Homo sapiens: one gene and its partner. Changing the gene in region 2 together with the main gene of any one other region gives a genetic interaction. Each region holds a gene or a part of one and is shown on either strand. Other genes may lie near its edges.

Region 1 (3,500 bases), on a different chromosome or scaffold from region 2:
GAAGTGAAAAAATGACAGGTACCAATATTACTGTGTTGGATAATTTCTTTTATAATATAGAAAAGAACTTTTTTTTTCTACAATAGTTCTACAGTCACAAAGAGGCTTGTGGAAAAGGGAGCTGCCCGATTGAATTTTTTATAAAGAAACAAACAAAACCAAACACAACCGCAAACCAACAGAAACTGATTTCACGGCCCTCATTTCAACAGCTTCTCCTTCTGCCTTGACCCACCCTCCTCCCAATATACCTCCCTCCCGACCCACCCCGTCCCCACCCCAACCAGGAAGCAATGACACAGCTGAAGATGTAGGGCGATGGCAGCACAGTGCACTTTCTACATAGATGACTGGGAACTGGAATAGTATATACAGAGAAACTGGGTCCTACACAGCCTTGCACATGCTCAGAGCTGAGAGCGGGAAGATGTGGAATTCTGCGTTTCTACCTAGCACGCTTGAGAAAGTCAATTAAAGTGTATTAAAAAAACCAACAAACCTGTGCATTTGAAAAAAGTTAATGCCTAATTAGTACTTTAAAAATTTATCTATATAAAATGTACAAATAAAGGAGAGAATTTAATGCTTACAGATATTTCTCTAAGCAGTACTTCCCCCTTTTGGATATTTGACTGCACATACCAAGTGGTATAATAGTTTCCATCTTCTAATGATGGAATATATATATATATATATGTGTGTGTGTGTGTGTGTGTGTGTGTGTATATATATATATATATATTTTTTTTTTTTTTTTTTTTTTTTTTACCTATCCCTGGAGCAAGTAATAGGAAGAGAATGGGCAAACTGGTTGCACGAGAGAAAAGAGAATGGAGTTGGGAGCAACACATGAACTTGCGTTATAACATTCTGCTGTCCAGATCTGCCCTACTGTGCTGGTGGTCGGTCTGTCCCTCTTCTCATTAGCCACTCACAGGAGAGGTGCTTGTGCACTCTGATTCACAGGGGATGAACTCAGGATCTCAAAAGACATACAAAAACTAGAGGTATGTATCACTTAAATAGCTACGAAACTCACACCGTGATCTCCCTTCTGACACACATCTGCGCCATCTCTTCCAACATAAAATAAACTGTTTCAATGGTTTGTCAGTTATTTTTCAAATCACTAAAATGTACAGTCATCCACCAACAATTTAAGAAAGAACCTAAGAGGCAAATCACTGGGGACTGCTATTTGAGTTTTATCAGTCAAAGGCTCAAGCATCAAGACCCTCAGTTAGCATTTCAAAGTACATACTAGAAACAAGAGGCTGGGTGGCGTGTGTGTGCGTTATGGCTGATTCACCAGGTGGTAAAAAAACAAGAGGTTAATCTCCTCTTTTTGATTGTTAATTGACCATCTCTATTCCTCCAAAGGCTGGATTTGGATTGCAAACAGCTTTTCTCTGAGATTCTGCTGTTAATTGAGACTTACAGTATTTTTGTGTCTCTGAGTGCTGAGTGGGAATATTTTAAAAAAGAAGAAAAAAATTATATTACACTTGATTCAAGAACAACAAAGATTTCAATGAAGTCCGTCTATAAAGAAACATTCTTGGGGAAGGGTTTCAAGAGGTGTGTGTGTGTGAGGAGTGGAGGGGATTTTAAAAGGAGAAGCATTTTCCTGCCTCACTTTATTAATAATAATAATAATAATATTAACAATAATAATAAGTTTAAGGAGCTTGGGTTGTTCTCCATGTCCCCATCCGAGTCTCCCCTAAGTGCCTCCTGCTGGAATGAAGTAGGAAATGAAAGGTTGGGTTTGGAGGAAAGGGTCTGGTTAACCCTTGAGATGTATATAACATTTAAAAATGACAACATTGGGAGCTGCAAACAGTGAGGGGAAACATACATTTTAAAATAAAGATAATTCACTTTTACACAAATTCTGTCCATGTGGTATGTAAAGAAAGTAAGGCTCTTTTTAATTATGAAAAGATTTTGTGCATGTTTCCCCATCCCCAAATCCATTTTTAGATGAGTTCTACTGTAAAATGTTCAAGATTGTGAAGAAAACCAAAACCCAGAACAAAATGAACCCAAAAAAAGAGAAGATCAGGTTTTCTAAAAAATAAAATAAACCAAAGAAAAATTCCTCTAAATCTACAGCAATATTTTAACTGGAAAAAGGTCCATTTTTCTCTGGTTTGTCAGTATAAAAGGTTCCTTTATTTATATATATTTAAGTTTTTGATTGCAAGTTCATCTTGCTCATCTTCTCATGTAAGGTCCGTTGAGTGACTGCTTGGGCACGCCAGCAGCGTTCATGTAGCTGTGATGGGAGGGGCCTGTGTACATCATGTTCCCATGAGGGTTAGGCTGCATAGGCTGCTGGGTATAGGCCTGGCTCCCCATCATTCCCATCTGCATCTGCATAGGATACTGTGCTGTCTGGTTCATGTAGGCAGGGTTACTATGGTAACTGCTGTTCATCATGGGCTGTGTCATTCGATAGCTGTTCATGGCATTCAAGGTGTTCATATTCATGGAATTGACATTATAGGCGGGAGTAGGCATCAGATTAACCCCCATGTTCATGCCACGCTGAACAGCCAGTGCGCGAGGGCCAGCCTGCATGGCAACTGCCGATGGGCTACGGCCATACAGCTGCTGCTGGTGAGCAGCCGCAGAGGGCAGTGGCGCAGACTTGGAGCGGATGGAAATGTGCCCCTTCACTGGCATTTGCCCTTGCAATCTCTGCGTGTGAGGAATGCCAATGTTGGTGGCAGACATGTTGCACTGAAGCAGAGGAGATGTGAGGTTCATGGTAGTGGATGCCAAGTTTGGGGGTGGCGTCATGGTGGCTTGTGCTTGAGGAGTCCCAGCTAAGGGATGAGATGGAGCCAGCTGAGCCAGTCCTGTATTGGACAGAGAAACACTGGTTGCATAGGAAGTCACAGCAGGAGAATGGCTATAAGGCATGGCATGAGGGTCCATAATGGTGTTGGTCAGCTGCTGCAGCTTGGCTAGGCTGAAGGTGGCTGATGGTTGAGAGTAGCTGCCGGCACCAAAATCCCCTGGAATCCTCTCATAGATACTTATGTTCCCAGTGCTTCCAGATTCTGGTATCTCCATGATCATAGGAGCTGGGGTGAAACTGTTATTCATACTACACTGTGACAGCGGGGGCTGCTGCTGGGGAGGGGGTGGGGGTGGAGGCTGCTGGGGCTGAGGCTGCGGCTGCTGTTGCGGCTGCTGCTGGGGTGGTGGAGGCTGTGGTGCTGGTTGTGGTTGTGGCGGCGGCGGCTGTGGCTGCTGTGGAGGCGGTGGTGGCGGCTGCTGCTGCTGGTTACTGGGAGGCCTCTCCACCACGCAGCTCTGAGGTGACTTGATGCTGCAGTTGGCAGCAGGCTGGACGCTGCTCTGCTGCATCATGCTGCAGCTGCTGCCCATGCTGGCCATCTGCTGAGTGACCACACAGCTGCTCTGGGTGAGGCTGCTGGAGGACGACAGCCCACCGTAGGAGCAGCTGCTCTGGGAAGAGCTGTTCCCAC
Region 2 (3,500 bases):
CAAGTCTGGGCTTTTAGTGCTGTGACTAGAGCACCTTGGTTCTCCTATGCATCGTCTCTCACCATTCAGTAATTTAGCCCAAGCTTCTCGTTTGGAAACGTGTCAGCTTATTTTCAAGAGCAAAAGTGGAAGCTGCCAAAATATCACTTCCATATCCTATTAGTCAAAACAAGTCACAAGTTCAGCCCTCACTGTAGAAAAAAATAGACCTTATTGGAAATAGCACGTGCACAGAGGATGAGAGCAACTGTTGGTGGCCATCTTTGGAGATGATCTACCACACCTCTAAATTTGTGAGATAAGAGTGTAGGTTTCTGATAACTTTGGAATTGAATGTATGGTAAGCTGTTTGCAGAAACAAATGTCCAATTAAGAACAAAGACTGGTTTCTTGGAATGAACATGACTTGTCGAGGATAAAGATGTTTATATCTCACATGGAACATTTGTGAGGAGCCATGGAGCCAGAGTTGTACAATAGTACAGGTTATTTTCTCCATTCTTGGGCACAAGTAAACAAATCCGCAAACCCCCAAATGGTAACAACATGACCTGGACTTAAAGGTATTGCACAAGAGGTTAGGGGCAAACTGATGTTTTGGCACCAGGGACATTTCTCATCGCTGGGCAATCCTTTGTTTCCTTCTTGGTGACATTCATTGGGATTTTGTTGCAGATACCACACAGGAAGAAGGCTATTAAACTGCCCCTATCAGCAGGAAACAGTCTGGAGGAGGCAGTCACACATAATTTTGTGAAAGAAAGTGCTGAGGCAAAACCAGCTGAGGTCCGATTCCATGATCCCAATGAACAGCAAAGCAAAGGGTGGCTTCTAGAAGTCCTAGCACACATCACATACTATCATTCAGCAAAGTAGTTTTCATATTTTATTCTCATGACATTCAACACTTTGATATGCTGTACATATGTGCACCTGTGAGACACAAGAGGTAGAGGAAACTAATGCTGAGAGCCTCAGTGAGCCAGGCCTTCTCCCTGCTGCCATTCTTTTCACTTGATGGGATTGGTTATTTGAGCTTGAGCACACTAAACTAGTTGAGGGTTGTATGGTAAAAGGATTCCTGCTGTCTCACTGGGGCTTTTTCTCAAACCAGGGTTTCTTAACTCCATGTCCAAGAATGGACTTCAACGGCACAATTTCCTCAACTATAGACAAATGTGTGCATATTTACAAGGGTGATTTTTAAAAATCCAGTGCTTTAATTAGAGTCTCAAGGACAGAAGAAAAAAGTGGTAAAAGGATCATGGCTGAGCTGTGCTGCTTGATCCTGGTACAGCTCGAGACTTTGTTTTGACCCACCCCACCCAGAACTATAGGGACAAATCAGTACAAATCAAAGTTGAGGACAAGTCAAAAGCATCACCTTGTCATTTAAAGGTTATACCACACTGTTAAAAGTTACTTGGCTGGGCGCAGTGGCTCCTGCCTGTAATCCCAGCACTTTGGGAGGCTGAGGTGAGTGGATCACCTGAGGTCAGGAGTTCAAGACCAACCTAGCCAACAGGGCAAAACCTCATCTCTACTAAAAATACAAAAATTAGCCAGGCGAGGTGGTGGGCACCTGTAATCCCAGCTACTTGGGAGGCTGAGGCAGGAAAATCGCTTGAACCTGGGAGGCAGAGGTTGCAATGAGCCTAGATCACGCCACTGCACTCCAGCATAGGTGACAGAGTGAGACGTCGTCTTAAAAAAAAAAAAAATGGCTGGGTGCAATGGCTCACGCCTGTAATCCCAGCACTTTGGGAGGCTGAGGCGAGTGGATCACGAGGTCAGGAGATCGAGATCATCCTGGCTAACACGGTGAAACCTCATTCTACTAAAAATACAAAAAATTAGCTGGGCGTGGTGGTGGGCACCTGTAGTCCCAGCTACTCGGGAGACTGAAGCAGAAGAATGGCATGAACCCGGGAGGCAGAGCTTGCAGTGAGCCAAGATCGCACCACTGCACTCCAGCCTGGGTGACAGAACGAAACTCCGTCTCAAAAAAAAAAATTACTTAATATGACTCATTATCCCCAGATAAGAAATGGGAAAATAGCATGGAAGCATCAGGTGACCAGACCTCATAACAATGCCAAAAGTATGGGATTTGGACTCAGGGAAGCAAGGCTCTCTCATTCTATTGCTATGACACAGCAGCAAGACCACTATGAGCCTCAATTTTTCATCTAGAAGAAGACTATAATATCCACCTTACTGTGCTGTGGTGAGGAATGAAGAAAACCATGGAAGTAAAGGGACAGTGCTTACTGAACAGTTTATTCCTAAATCAGAAACAATGCCAGAATGAGGCACATCTTTTGCTTCCTGGTTTAGCTCTGTAGCCCCCTAAACTTGCTGCTTCTAAAGCCAACTAACATCAATCAATTCTGTTTTTTGTTTTTGAGACAGGGTCTCACTCTGTCACCCAGGCTGGAGTGCAGTGGCATCATCTCAGCTCATTGCAACTTCTGCCTCCCAGGTTCAGGCGATTCTCGTGCCTCAGCCTCCCAAGTAGCTGAGACTACAGGCATGTGCCCACGTCTGATTTTTCTATTTTTTGTAGAGCTGGGGTTTCACCATGCTGCCCAGGCTAGTCTCGAATTCCTGGACTCAAGCGATCTGCCCGCCTTGGCCTCCCAAAGTGCTGAGATTACAGACTATTACAGAGCTATCACAGCTGGCTTAAAAATCAGTCCTTTTTACTGTAATGAGTTAATTTGGTTAATAATTAAAAAATAATAAGAAAAAATATAAAAAGAAAATCCTTTTGCCTGAAAGTTTTCACCAGTTTCATTATTATCCTTGTAATGGAAGCCATTAGAAACAAATCCAACTAGAAGGGAGAGGATGATTCATCATTAAGGAATCAAAAATAGTGGAAGAAAACGGTAGAGGGGAGGGTGCAGGCTATCAAGGTAGACAGACCAGAATTGAAGTTTCTGGCTTTGCTGCTTACTTCCACCTTGGATTCCAGGTCTCCTTTGGCAAACCAGTGTACCCATCTACTGTACAGGGCTAATATGAGGGTCAAATGAGGCAGTATGAAGGTACAGTGACAACCATATGGGAAGCAACCAATAGAGTAGGTACTTCCATTGAGCAGGTTTCAGGAATAATTTCAGACTTTTGCTCTTCTAATAAAGGAGCTTAAGCAGCTAAGCTTCTGTTATGCAGATAAGAGGGAGTTAAAAGCTGGGTGCAGAGGCTCACGGCTGTAATCCCAGCACTTTGGGAGGATGAGGCGGGTGATCACTTGAGGTCAAGAGTTTGAGACTGGCCTGGCCAACATGGCAAAACCCTGTCTCTACTAAACATACAAAAATTAGCCAGGTGGCCTGCACCTGTAATCCCAGCTACTTGAGAGGCTGAGGCAGGAGAATCACTGGAATCCAGGAGGCAGACATTGCAGTGAGCTGAGATCATGCCACTGCATTCCGGACTGGATGATAGAGTGAGACTGTCTTTTTTTAAAAAAAAAAAAAAAAAAAAAAAAAAAA

The links. A genetic interaction does not mean that the proteins touch.
Region 1: changes in KAT7 (region 2) and KAT6A together harm fitness more than expected from each alone (negative genetic interaction), as found in Homo sapiens cells (one large-scale study listed by BioGRID).

The regions. Positions count from the first base shown.
Region 1 is NC_000008.11:41,929,988-41,933,487, forward strand, and holds part of KAT6A (histone acetyltransferase KAT6A), read right to left. Parts: coding exon 2,218-3,500; 3' UTR 1-2,217. UniProt on the Homo sapiens protein: Histone acetyltransferase that acetylates lysine residues in histone H3 and histone H4 (in vitro). Component of the MOZ/MORF complex which has a histone H3 acetyltransferase activity. May act as a transcriptional coactivator for RUNX1 and RUNX2.
Region 2 is NC_000017.11:49,830,181-49,833,680, reverse strand, and holds part of KAT7 (histone acetyltransferase KAT7), read right to left. Parts: 3' UTR 1-3,500. UniProt on the Homo sapiens protein: Catalytic subunit of histone acetyltransferase HBO1 complexes, which specifically mediate acetylation of histone H3 at 'Lys-14' (H3K14ac), thereby regulating various processes, such as gene transcription, protein ubiquitination, immune regulation, stem cell pluripotent and self-renewal maintenance and embryonic development.